4 separate regions of the Homo sapiens genome follow, and all the other regions are reported to be linked to region 1. The links are microRNA targets in miRTarBase. Many come from high-throughput screens and were not tested one by one. Region 1 holds a microRNA gene; each other region holds the end of a gene's coding sequence.

Region 1 (3,000 bases):
ATACTCAGAGCTACAGTGGGGGTGGACTCCATATCAGGGATGATGGCCACAGCCCATGGGAGAAGCCAAATGAGGGCCGAGTGCAAGCAGTGCCCTCCTTAGGCTGGCCCTGGTACTGCAGGCCCGCCTTTTATTAATATTTTAATAAATTGATCACATATTCATTGGGCACCTATACTGTGCAAGGCCTTGTGCCATGGGCCTTACGCTTAAGCAGAATACTCACAATGACCCTGCAGAGATGGGCCTTAGAATCCTAATTTTACAAATAAGAAAACTGAGTCTGAGTAGTTAAGCAGCTTGTCTGGGGCTGCACAGCTAGTAAAAGGCCTAGCCAGTACTCAAAGCCAGGTCGGTCTTATTCCAAAAGTAGTGTCCTCCTCTATTCTACCACATCACCTCTCTACACTGCCCTAGGACTTTTCTTCTGCCGTATAATCATCTTAATTGTCTGTAACCCAAGGATCTAGTTCTAAGAATCAGGGCCCAGCCAGACATTATTAAGCAAGACCAGGACCCATGCACACTGCCCCAGACATCTTCAGATGTGCCTCCTAACTAGGTCAGGATTGATTCTAGAGACCATGACACAGCCAAGCTGGGATAGGTGAGGGAAGATTGCTGGGAGCCCTAGACAGCTCACGGACAAGAAACTAGGGAGCCCTGACAGAATTAGAACTCCCACGTTGGGGCCTGGAGACTTCAAACCCTTCAAGAGATGAGATTTTCCAGCAGTGGTGCTGCATGGCCCCTCCGCGAGGCTGTGTGGCCCCTCCGTGAGGCTGCGTGGCTCGTGACCTCTCTGAGTCTTCATCCAGTTTCCTGGTGACTCTCCTTGTCTTCTCTCTCAGGTTGTCCATCTGGGACTTTCAAGGCCAACCAAGGGGATGAGGCCTGTACCCACTGTCCCATCAACAGCCGGACCACTTCTGAAGGGGCCACCAACTGTGTCTGCCGCAATGGCTACTACAGAGCAGACCTGGACCCCCTGGACATGCCCTGCACAAGTAAGTCCTAGGGCCCCTCAAGGGCGATGGCTGGCCGAGTCCCAGGTCTACCTGCAGAAAAGCTCAGAGTGAGGATTGGGTGCCGTCCGGTTACAGCCAGTCTTTCCCTGGTGGGAAGAGAAATGGAAAAGTGCTCAAGAAAGGGGCATCCTGGGGTGGCCATGCTCCCACCTTGCAGACACCACAGTGCTGGCATCTGGCTCCTTACCCCCTTCTGCTGAGTCACATGGAAGATAAAGTCAAGGTCTGGATTCACAAAGGGACAGGGGATGGGAGGCTTGGCAGGAGATGAAGCAACACAGGTAGTATATGTGGCAGAAAAGGCTGCCCAGTGTTCTAACCTGGCAGCAGCTGCCTGAATCACAGCCCAAGGTCCTCTAGGAAGGCACTGCCTGAGAACGCAGCGTCACAACCCCTGTATCTGTCAGGGATGGCATTCAGCTGTAAGTAACAGAGCTGAGCCCTATGGCTGAAACTGTACGGATTTATTCTCTCACCCAAAAGGAGCCCAAGGTAGACAGTCCTGGGACAGTATGGGCAATCCACGATGGCCTTTGGGGCCTGGCTCTTTCTGCCATTCAGAATGGCATAATCCTAGCTCACTGCAGCCTCAACCTCCTGGGCTCAGGTGCCCTCAGCCTTCTGCCCTCAGCCTCCTGAATACCTGGGATTACAGGCGTGCACCACCACACCCAGCTAATTTTTCTAATTTTTTGTAGAGACAGGGTCTCGCTATGTTGCCAAGGCTAGATTTGAACTCCCGGGCTCAAGGAATCTTCCCGCATCCTCCCAAAGTGCTGGATTACAGGCATGAGCCACCACGCCCAACCTAGTTTCTGTTCTTTTTTTTTTTTTTTTTTTTTTTTGAGATGGAGTTTCACTCTGTCGCCCAGGCTCTGGAATGCAATGGCATCATGATCTCAGCTCATGGCAACTTCCACCTCCCGGGTTCAAGTGGTTCTCCCACCTCAGCCTCCCGAGTAACTGGGATTACAGGCATCCGCCATCATGCCCGGCTAATTTTTTGTATTTTTAGTAGAGACGGGGTTTCCTATGTTGGCCAGGCTGGTCTTGAACTCCTGACCTCAGGTGATCCGCCTGCCTCGGCCTCCCAAAGTGCTGGGATTACAGGTGTTAGCCACTGTTGTTTCTGTTCTTAACGTCACTTCATAGTCCAGCATAGCTGCTGAAGTCCCAGCCATCACCCACATTTTAGGCAGCAGAAGCAGGGAAAGGACAAAGGGACACGCCATAGCTGTCTGTCTCTTTTTAAAGAAACAGCCCTAGTCAACAACTTCTGCTCTATATCAGTGGCAAGCACTTAAACACAGGAGGCTGGGAAATGCCATCTTTTAGCTGGACATATTGCCACCATGAATAAAGCTGGGCTGTTCTAAGGAAGAAGGAGAAAATAGATACTGGGCAGGTATAATTCCAAACGCAAAAATACTATCCTCAGTAACAAACACTGAGCAGTTTGTAAGCTGGGAGGAGAGAAAGGTTTGGGCAGATGTACAGCAGGCTAACTTGTATTCTAGAAACATTTCTCTGGTGGGGAGACAGGACAAAGAATTTAAGGAAGTCCTTTCAGAGGGGCTGAGCCAGAGCAGCGGGCACAGAGTGGTCACATGGGGAATAGTACCCCCTGAGCCCCCCACTGACCAACACCTCTCCCCCGCCCCAGCCATCCCCTCCGCGCCCCAGGCTGTGATTTCCAGTGTCAATGAGACCTCCCTCATGCTGGAGTGGACCCCTCCCCGCGACTCCGGAGGCCGAGAGGACCTCGTCTACAACATCATCTGCAAGAGCTGTGGCTCGGGCCGGGGTGCCTGCACCCGCTGCGGGGACAATGTACAGTACGCACCACGCCAGCTAGGCCTGACCGAGCCACGCATTTACATCAGTGACCTGCTGGCCCACACCCAGTACACCTTCGAGATCCAGGCTGTGAACGGCGTTACTGACCAGAGCCCCTTCTCGCCTCAGTTCGCCT
Region 2 (3,333 bases), not on the chromosome of region 1:
GGATACAAATGCCTGGCGGGAGGATCACTCGAGCCTAGGAGATTGAGACCAGCCTGGGCAATATAGTGAGACCCCACCTCTACAAAAAATTAAAATTAGCCAGACATAGTGGTGCCCACCTGTAGCTACTTGGGAGGCTGAGGTGGGAGGATCACTCAAGTCCAAGAGGTCCAGGCTACAGCTAGCCATGATCACACAACCGTACTCCAGACTGGGAAGTAACAGAGCCCGTCTTAAACTAAAAAAAAAAAACATGGCCGGGCGTAGTGGATCACACCTATAATCCCAGCACTTTGGGAGGCCGAGGCAGGCAGATCACGAGGACAGGAGATCGAGACCATCCTGGCTAATACAGTGAAATCCCGTCTCTACTAAAAATAACGAAAAATTAGCCAGGTGTGGTAGTCCCAGCTACTTGGGAGGCTGAGGCAGGAGAATGGCGTGAACCCAAGAGGCGGAACTTGCAGTGAGCTGACATAGCGCCACTGTGCTCCAGCCTGGGCGACAGAGCAAGACTCCGTCTCGAAAAAAAAAAAAATTTTTTTTACAAAAAATTAAAAAAATAAAAAGTGCCAGGCTCGCAGTATAGCACTCAAATGCTATTTGTCAGTTTCATGGAAGAGAAAATTTAAGTCTTGTCATTAAAAAACTAAATACAGCTTAAGGAAAAATAAACTCCCAAGTAACCAAACTTCAAAGCAGGGCCAGGGGACATAAAACCCCAAACACTTCATTTAACAATGGAAGACACTTTATTATTATTATTTTTAATCATCTCTCAACATTTCAACTCTTGGTAGAAATCAAATGTAAAACATCTGCATTTTTAAATTAGCATGTATTTAACTATCTCAATCACAGCAACCTCATCCAGTAAGATGCACACCTGGGAGCAGGGCTGTAGTATTTCGTATTCCAGTCTGTGACCACAGTGCGTCCGTGATGACAGGTACACTGGACTTTCCCTCCTAGGATGTGTTAGTCATTCCTGCTTTTGTCCATAGGGTAAGTTACGTGGCATCACGGTTGGTTAGAAAGAGTTAGTTACTGTAATGCTGGCGCAATCTGGAAATGGAAAACTAGAAAACTAGAGCTCTCAGGAGTGGGCCAGGCATTGCCGATTCTGAAATGTGAAAAGGAAGAACATCAAAGATGAATGCCCTGCTAGGCTGGTCTTAGTAATAAAGTTGGTTGAAATTCAGCTTAATATACACACTGTACATCTACATGTGATCTACCAGATAGATATATATATATATATATATATATATATATATATATATATATATATATATTAAAAAGAGAGCCATAGAAGATTTGGAAAACCTTAAAATCACTCAACTGAGTTGGAAGAACATCAGCAAATTCACAGTGGCCTCAGGATTCAGCCAGACTTAAACTTGCTCAAGAGCTGAATAACTTTCTCCCAGAAAAGCCCACTGCATATAAATCCCTTAACATTGTGTACATCACAAACAGTTATGGCTAAAATATAGTTAGTTCACAAGGAAGCGGCTTTATTTTCAAACTCTTGCCCCACTCCTGCTCTTGTACCCCCACAAGGAAAATCCAGGGGTTGGTAATTCACATGAGAAGCTGAAGGGGCCTTCAGGCTTGGAAGCGCTTAGGCTTAGCTGAGCATCTGAGGAGCCGTCTCTCTGATGGGCACATGCCGACTCCTGCCCACTTTTAGTGCAAAAAGATTGCAAATGTTGCAGATGAGTCCTGGAAACTGGTGAAGAGAAGAGGATTGAGATGGAGGGGCAGTAGGAATCCCAAATGATTTTCCTTCTGAAACGAGACTCAAGAAGTGTGAAGTGCAAGGTTCCTGCTCAGCAAGCTATAGGTCCGACAGGTGAGGTCCCTGAATTGTCATAGGTTAGCAGTCTGCAGACACACAGACCTCGACACCCGCGCTCACCCCCTAAGTGCACACTGGAGGTAGGTGTATAGATAGTTACTGCAGGGAAGACAGTGGCTCTCCACCAGCTCAAGAAAAGGAGGCTTCATGTCTGTTCCTCCCTGCCCCAAACTCTCCTCTCCCCTCGGGCCATAGTGAGTGGAGGATACAACACGAATGGGCGCGAGGCCCTCCCTTGGAAGACTAAAGAACCCAGGGCATTTAATAAATAGCTACATAATTCATTTTTTTAACCACGTTGAAACACACAGCAAGTTGAATATTTATTTAAAAATAAATCTCAAAAATATCTATTGACAGTACAGTAAGAGGGGCATGTGCAAACAACAGAAAGGGGGAAGTCAGTCCTGCTGTGGGAAGCCCACACATCAGTGTGTTGGAGCAAAGTTCACGAAGGCCATGGGCTGACTGAGCTGTGGTGTACGAAATGACATTCAGCTAATACTGGACTCGGTTCACCTTTGACACCTGGAGAGGTGGGGAAGCCAGGGGGTGGGGAGTCCAGCTGGGGATCCTTGTGTTTAGGAAGGGGGCGGCCAAGGGATGAGCCTTTGGGAGAGGCCCCGTGTGGCAGGAGGGCTCATTTCACAAGCCAACAGGCCTCTAGCTCGCCGCTCCAGGTGGATGTTTGGTGACCTGAAGGGCCCTTCCCAGTCCAAGTTGGCTTTGCAATGGGAGGGGTAGGTGCAGCGAGGGTCCCAGAGACAGAAATCCTCTTTAAAGGAAAAAACAAAACAACAAAACAAAACAAAACAAAACCCCAAAAAAAGAACCAACTGAACAGGGAGTGGAGAGATTAGCAAAATGAATCTGAACGGAAGTGCCACCTTCTCCCTTGTCAGACAACAAAGCAGCCATTGGTTGAGATATCTGAGTCGCTAAGTGAACTCCCACGTGGACACAGCCAGCCCACGATCTCTGCCACCTACATGGTCAAGTGCAGGCCTCCGCCTCTGAGATCAATGCGTTAGTACTTCTTCACCGTGAAACCCGAAAGGTCGGTTGATGTAGCCCTTGGAGCTGGAAGGGGCGAGGCCGGTCTATCTGTACACGAGATGGGAGAGCTGGGTGGACTTGTAGTTCAGCTGGTTGTTGGGCATGAACTTGTGCAGCTCACTCTTTTTGTAGCAGGGGTCATAATGGTAAGCGCTGAGGCAGGCGTCACATGAGACTTTTGAACACTGGGTGCAGGTGTTGGTGGCGCCTGGGCGGTTGCAGAAGCCACAGCGGGAAGTGGGCGTGGTGGAGGGCTTGGATTTGGAGTGAAGGTGCGGGAGGCGGTCGAGGCCCTGAGTCTGGCCTGGGTACTTCTCCCGCAGAGATGCCCCGTGGGCCAGGCTGTCATGAGTCGAGGCCTTGCTGGGGAAGGCGCTGGGCTTGGAAGCTGGAGGACAGGTGAGCAGGCTGTCACA
Region 3 (3,333 bases), not on the chromosome of region 1:
GAACCTTCTCATCATCAGCTTTGACCGCTACTTCTGCGTCACCAAGCCTCTCACCTACCCTGCCCGGCGCACCACCAAGATGGCAGGCCTCATGATTGCTGCTGCCTGGGTACTGTCCTTCGTGCTCTGGGCGCCTGCCATCTTGTTCTGGCAGTTTGTGGTGGGTAAGCGGACGGTGCCCGACAACCAGTGCTTCATCCAGTTCCTGTCCAACCCAGCAGTGACCTTTGGCACAGCCATTGCTGCCTTCTACCTGCCTGTGGTCATCATGACGGTGCTGTACATCCACATCTCCCTGGCCAGTCGCAGCCGAGTCCACAAGCACCGGCCCGAGGGCCCGAAGGAGAAGAAAGCCAAGACGCTGGCCTTCCTCAAGAGCCCACTAATGAAGCAGAGCGTCAAGAAGCCCCCGCCCGGGGAGGCCGCCCGGGAGGAGCTGCGCAATGGCAAGCTGGAGGAGGCCCCCCCGCCAGCGCTGCCACCGCCACCGCGCCCCGTGGCTGATAAGGACACTTCCAATGAGTCCAGCTCAGGCAGTGCCACCCAGAACACCAAGGAACGCCCAGCCACAGAGCTGTCCACCACAGAGGCCACCACGCCCGCCATGCCCGCCCCTCCCCTGCAGCCGCGGGCCCTCAACCCAGCCTCCAGATGGTCCAAGATCCAGATTGTGACGAAGCAGACAGGCAATGAGTGTGTGACAGCCATTGAGATTGTGCCTGCCACGCCGGCTGGCATGCGCCCTGCGGCCAACGTGGCCCGCAAGTTCGCCAGCATCGCTCGCAACCAGGTGCGCAAGAAGCGGCAGATGGCGGCCCGGGAGCGCAAAGTGACACGAACGATCTTTGCCATTCTGCTAGCCTTCATCCTCACCTGGACGCCCTACAACGTCATGGTCCTGGTGAACACCTTCTGCCAGAGCTGCATCCCTGACACGGTGTGGTCCATTGGCTACTGGCTCTGCTACGTCAACAGCACCATCAACCCTGCCTGCTATGCTCTGTGCAACGCCACCTTTAAAAAGACCTTCCGGCACCTGCTGCTGTGCCAGTATCGGAACATCGGCACTGCCAGGTAGGCAGGCAGGAGTGCCCTAGGAGGTGCTGGTGTTGCGTGCGTGTGCTGGGGGGACCACACGGCTCACTTGCTGTGGGGAAGAGTTGCAGGCACCATTCTGCGTTCACGTTTGCTGAGGAGGAAGTTCAGAAGAGGCTCTGTGGCTGCATTCAGAGACCAGATCTCTGCTCAGGCTGAGGAGGCTCACCCCAGGGAGTGTCTGAACTGGGGCTGCCTGGCCCACCTCTGTGGCCCTGCTTCAGCGAGCTGCGGGGCACTGGCCTGGGTGGGCACCTGCCCCACTGTGACCAACCATCAGCAGTGCTGGAAGAATGGACATCTGGATGGGGGCCGAAGCCCAGGGCCCCCTCAGGAAGAACAAAGGGGCCAGTGCTTGGAAAAGGAGGCTTGGGAAGGGAGTAGAAGGGTGGGGTCCCCCATTCTGCTGTAATCGGTGCTTTCTGCCCCCTTGCACCCCGCATGTAGGCTCAGCCCCCTCTCCCCAAATCCCACTCCAGGGGCAGAAATCTCCTCTGGCTGCAGCTACTTAGCCAGGTTCTGGGTGGGTATGATGGAGGCCAGGTCCCCCCCGCCCCAGCAGCACTGCCCTTGTCACATTAAGATGGGGCAGCTGGGAGGTCAGAGGTTCTGTCTCAGGAACTGAGGTCTGGCCTTCTGCGATCCCAGGCTGAGCCGTGAGTGGTCCACGTATTCAGAAGACAGCCCCCTGCAGCCCCGGCCTTAGAAGGCTGTCCCAGGTCACACATCGAGTCAGGGTGAGGCTGTGGTGGATGGCATTCCCATCTGCCCTCTTCAAACCTCTCACCCCCTGGCTTCTGCAGGGTGGAGGCCTGGGTCACACAGGCAAGAGGAAAGGGGTCAACCTGGTGGCTCACTCGGGTTTCCATGACAGTGGGAAGGGGGGAGGTGGGCAGTGAGGTAGGCACGCAGCCCTCGCATCTGCTCTCCCCCATGGGTAGAACCTTCCTGATTGGCTGTGGGTTGTATCAAAAGACCTTTGACTGGGTGAGGCTGAGATGGGTGTGGTGGTTCCAGTGAGTCAGCCAGGTTCCCTTCCCCAGCCCTGGTCCCTGAGGGAGATGAGGACCGAAAGGCTTAGGTGACTTGATGGGGAGCACCCTTTCAGGGGCCCTGGAAGAAATGTTTGTAATTGTTCTGCTTTTTCCATGAGCTCTGGAGAGCACCCACCACCAAGCCCCCTGAAACCCACCAGTCCCTACAGCCTGGTCTTTCTCCCCACCTTCCCACTCCCAAACACATTTCCACAGCAAACTCCTTGGGAAGGGGCTTTTATATATTAAAAAAGAAGAGCTTTTATTGGGGGGAAAAAGTCAGTTTATTTGATGTGTTTCTTAGTAATGGAATTGTGGGGAAGAACAAAAGCGGGCTCTGGGACTCACATTGCTTTGGGGGAGGCTCAAGCTTCCCAGAATCCCTTGTCCCTCCCCACTTTGGGCACTTAGGGGTGGGGCTGGGGAGTGAGAGGGACAAGGCAGGGCATGATTGATTAAAGCTAACGAGCAGACAGAAGGCACTGGTGGGTCACATCTCGGGCCTGGGAGAGGGAGGGCGTGGGCCAGGCCCCATGTGACACCAGGGGCTCCTTGGCATCCAGGCTTGGCGTCTAGTCCTTTCCCTTCCCTTTCTTGGCTGTAAAACAAGAAAGAAATATTAATACCATATCAGCAGTTAGGCTGACCCATTGCAGACCGCCGGCTCCACAAACACCCGGGCATCAGGGAAGGAGAAGATTCTGCCCCCTAGTGGTTTCCAATCAGCTGACTCGGAAGCAGGGGATGGGGCAGCCATTGTGATGTGGACATGGGACATCCCCAGCTTCCTATTTCCACTTGGGATCAGAAAACCTTCAAGTTTCCAGTCCTAGTCCTGGTCACAGCAGCCCTGGGCATCCTCAGCCTCCTCACCTGAGAAGCGGGCAGATTCACCCCTGCCCTGCTGGCCTCGCTGGGCTGAGTCACGAGTGAGCTGAGAGGCCCAGGGTGGGCCTTGACCTCCTCCCAACACTAGAAAGGGCAGAGCTGACCAAATGCTGCCCGTGGCTGGAGAGCTGACAAAGGCAAGCCGTTCCAGGACACTCTCCCTGGGTCCTAAGCCAGATGCTCCAATGGAGTAGTTTGAGTTGGTCCCTATTTGGGCCAGGGAGGATTTATGTCCCCAGCATCACCTGCGGCCTCTCTTGTAGTGCCCATCTTCAGACTTTTCCAGGCAGGGAAGCCAAGTGAGGCGATGTCAGGA
Region 4 (3,333 bases), not on the chromosome of region 1:
CCAGTTACTAAGGATGGTTTTATTTACACCTTTAGCATTTCATTTCAAGAAGTTGATATTAAAGAAATCCTCATCATAATAATAACCCATGGAGTAATGCATGTCAACTCTGCAAAACTAGAACGTAGCCACTTTAAATATACTTAACACATGACAGCATTCTCAGTCTTGGTTTCTTCTTGCAGATGAAGTTGAAAGGAAGCTCAATCCAACTCTCAGACAAAAAGCTTTGTCAGATATGCCAAAATCCCTTTTGTGAGCCTGTGTTTGTTAGATACCCAAATGGTGGTCTTGTGCACACCCACTGTGCCGCCAGCAGACACACAAACCCCAGCTCATCCAGTCCTGGCACTCGGACTTGAAAAGCTTGGCCCAAGGGTGCGAGGGGAACTCCGAGTTCTTTCTGAGCCTGCTGGACATGAAGAGCAGATGACCACCATGCTCTGTGTCAGCCAGGACGAAGGGAGACATCTGGGTGCCAGGGAGCCTTCCGTCCATACGCAACAAGGACTCCTCGCTGCTGACCAGGCTCTATGAATGTACATGGAATGACCAGGCTCTATGAATGTACATGGAAAACCCCTAAAAATCCCCAAAACAGAAACATACAAGAGTTCACCTGTCCAGGTACATAGTAATCCAAGACAGAGGTCTACTTTGAAAAAAAAAAAAAGGGAGTCTTCCTCATGCAGTCCAGACCCAGGTGGGGGATCCCCCACCACCCCCACACTCCAACCTTTAGACTCATGTTTGCACTGGAAACGTGGCTTCACCATGGCTGGCGACAAAGTCCTCTCTTGCCTGGGTGAGTGGCGAGGGCACAGAGCCTCATGGGGGTCAGCCTTGCCCTCCTGCAGAAACACGTTCTCCATCCACGCCGCTCACTCATGGGCCCATTTCCCAGGGTTACCTCGTGGGCTCTGCCTTTGCCCTCAGAAACGGCTGACCCTGGAGAAGTACCTTTGTTCCTTCTTTCTTCCTCTCCGGCTCTCAGCTCCCAAAAGATTCTGCCTTGTGTACCCAAGCACTCACTCTTGGGTGAACTAATGCTTCTGGCTGCCTAGCAAGTGAAGATCTGTTGAGAAACTGAGAACGCTCCAAGAGAGAAGCTGCTCTCCCCTCCTTGAAGAAGCCGCGGACACGGGAAACCCACGGCGGGCAAGGGCCCAGCTGTGTGCTCCTTTCCTGTCATGGCATCTGCTGATTTGAAACTCCATGACGAACACGTTGAACTAAACATTTTTATTTAAATTTGTATCATGTTCGTAGTTGCTCTCTTGTTGAGAGAGTCATCTGTCCTGTTTGTTAGGGGTATTTTTTCTTGTTAAAATGTATCTCCTGTTGAATACTCGGGAAATTCAAAGGGAAGTGTGGTCAGCACACACTGAGCGTTCTTTTCTGGAGAGGCCGGTTTTAGCCTCGTACCTTTAGCAGGACCGACAGCGGGTGGAAGGGCCCGTGTGCTGGATGGGGGTGTCGCCTCCTGGATGGCACACCCTCCCGAGGACATCCAGACAGGCTGTGTCACCCTCCAGCACTTTATGTGCCTGCTCTGAGGTGTCCTGAACACACAGCAACGGCCTCTCCTTCATCACAGGCCGGGGATTCCTTTTGTGTTTCTGTATAACATCGATGACGAGCTGAAGCTGTTGTCACTTCACTGCCCTCTTTGGAATTTCTTCATTGTGCTGACTGATTCTATTAGGGGCTAACAATAAAGGCAGTCTACCCACTACTATCATGCTTGGGAAACAAGCGTCAGCTTGTACATATGACAAGAGAGGACCCTGAATACACCCTCTCTTCATCAGCCCAAGCCTTACTGAGGTGGGATGAAGACCTCATTCTCTGTTCTTTAAAACATGTTTCGTGAACTAATATTGGTCCATGTATTTTTTGTCCTTTTGGGACTCTAAGTGGGTCAAGAAGCAAAAACATCCATGTGTTGTTTGGGGGGAATTGGCACCATTTTTTCCTGACTATGTTTCAATTAACTAAAGAATAAATGATGAAGAAATTCTCCTTGTAGCACAACTGTATGCTGTGTAAATTGGTGTGAGCTCAAAGCCCAGTCATGTGTTTTACCTGTGGGTGACTCTGTTGTAGAATGGTCATATTACTGCATATGTTATCATGACAACTTGTGAGTTTGAGTTTATATTTCTCAAAGAACAAGTTACCCGTATATGCAACATTGCGCCATTAAAAGCTTATTTCTCTGTACACAAAATGGGTAAAATCTTGAAAAAACTTAGTAATTTCTCATTCCTAACACACAGACAGAGTCTCACTCTGTCACCCAGGCTGGAGTGCAGTGGCGCAATCTCGGCTCACTGCAACCTCCACCTCCTGGGTTCAAGCGATTCTGCTGCCTCAGCCTCCCGAGTAGCTGGGACTACAGGTGCATGCCACCACGCCCAGCTAATTTTTGTATTTTTAGTAGAGACGGGGTTTCACCATGTTGGCCAGGATGGTCTCGGTCTCCTGACCTCGTGATCTGCCTGCCTCGGCCTCCCAAAGTGCTGGGATTACAGGCGTGAGCCACTGCGCCCAGCCAACACTAGTCATTTTTATTTTTTCACTGAACATTGATCAATACTCTAAAATGTTTGTCATCCTTTAGAATAATGGGAATTAAAGTTGAGCAGTTTTCCATCTCTACCAAATCCTTCACCACAAGCAGCATTCTATTACAGTATGAAGAATTGTCTCATATGTTAAAACTGTACTTTTCTCTAACCTTTCTCTCACTCCTACAAGGCCCTTTTCTCAAATCATATTTCTGAGAGAAATGTATGGTTCTTTCTCACAGGCCTGCTGATTTGTAACTGTGCCATCGAATAGAGCAATTAGATCCATCAGACCTTTTTCCCCTCATTAGGTTCAGTGGAACCATTCTGGTTAAAACAGCATGAACTGAACTCAGTTTACATTCATATTCTATGGGCAATACCATTTGGTTTTTGGAACTGTTTATCTGCTGTTCCCTATCAAGTATTAATGTAGGGATGTCACTCAGGCTGCGTTGCACTGGGCTGAGTTCAACTGCGACGCTCTCACTGACGCGTGCTTACATGTGCTTCTCACTTCCGGAGCACAGGCAGGTGGCTGCGGGGTCCCAGCTCTGAATGGATGCCCATGATGCAACTGGGGCAGCCCTTGCTTTTTGCTTGCTCTCCCACAGAAACCTTTGTCCTTGCAACTTTATCCTTTGTCCCGATTGGGTCCCAGATACACAAAATGTACAAATGTAAACTTGCTCATTTTATTAAAATTCTTTTAGTTCTTTGTTCTTTCTGTAATTTTTTAAAATAAAAATTGCCTTGATGGAGT

What was found. Region 1 holds the annotated microRNA hsa-miR-4253 (AGGGCAUGUCCAGGGGGU, at 984-1,001, opposite strand). A microRNA usually pairs through its seed, bases 2 to 8, with sites in the 3' UTR of a target mRNA and lowers its output. Matches are read on the target gene's strand: a 7mer-m8 pairs with bases 2 to 8, a 7mer-A1 pairs with bases 2 to 7 and ends in A, and an 8mer does both.
Region 2: the mRNA of SPATA2 is a reported target of hsa-miR-4253. Seed matches in the 3' UTR shown: 7mer-m8 at 2,233-2,239.
Region 3: miRTarBase lists MDK as a target of hsa-miR-4253. Seed matches in the 3' UTR shown: 7mer-m8 at 2,573-2,579.
Region 4: the mRNA of TGFBRAP1 is a reported target of hsa-miR-4253. Seed matches in the 3' UTR shown: 7mer-A1 at 3,133-3,139.

Annotation. Positions count from the first base shown.
Region 1 is chr1:22,862,186-22,865,185 of GRCh38, forward strand. It overlaps MIR4253 (microRNA 4253), which reads right to left and starts at 1,041; the gene lies at 974-1,041. It overlaps EPHB2 (EPH receptor B2), which reads left to right. Exons shown (of 16, transcript NM_017449.5): 4 at 852-1,007; 5 at 2,692-3,000. RefSeq lists a silencer at 2,840-3,000.
Region 2 is chr20:49,902,658-49,905,990 of GRCh38, forward strand. SPATA2 (spermatogenesis associated 2) reads right to left here. Exons shown (of 3, transcript NM_006038.4): 3 at 734-3,333. The coding sequence ends at 2,962. Among named protein-coding and RNA genes, the nearest start is that of SPATA2, 11 kb to the right of the region's middle.
Region 3 is chr11:46,382,863-46,386,195 of GRCh38, reverse strand. It overlaps MDK (midkine), which reads right to left. Exons shown (of 5, transcript NM_002391.6): 5 at 2,395-2,727. The coding sequence ends at 2,702. It overlaps CHRM4 (cholinergic receptor muscarinic 4), which reads left to right. Exons shown (of 2, transcript NM_000741.5): 2 at 1-2,407. The coding sequence ends at 1,078. Among named protein-coding and RNA genes, the nearest start is that of MDK, 2.9 kb to the right of the region's middle.
Region 4 is chr2:105,264,412-105,267,744 of GRCh38, reverse strand. TGFBRAP1 (transforming growth factor beta receptor associated protein 1) reads left to right here. Exons shown (of 12, transcript NM_004257.6): 12 at 186-3,331. The coding sequence ends at 362. Among named protein-coding and RNA genes, the nearest start is that of GPR45, 24 kb to the right of the region's middle.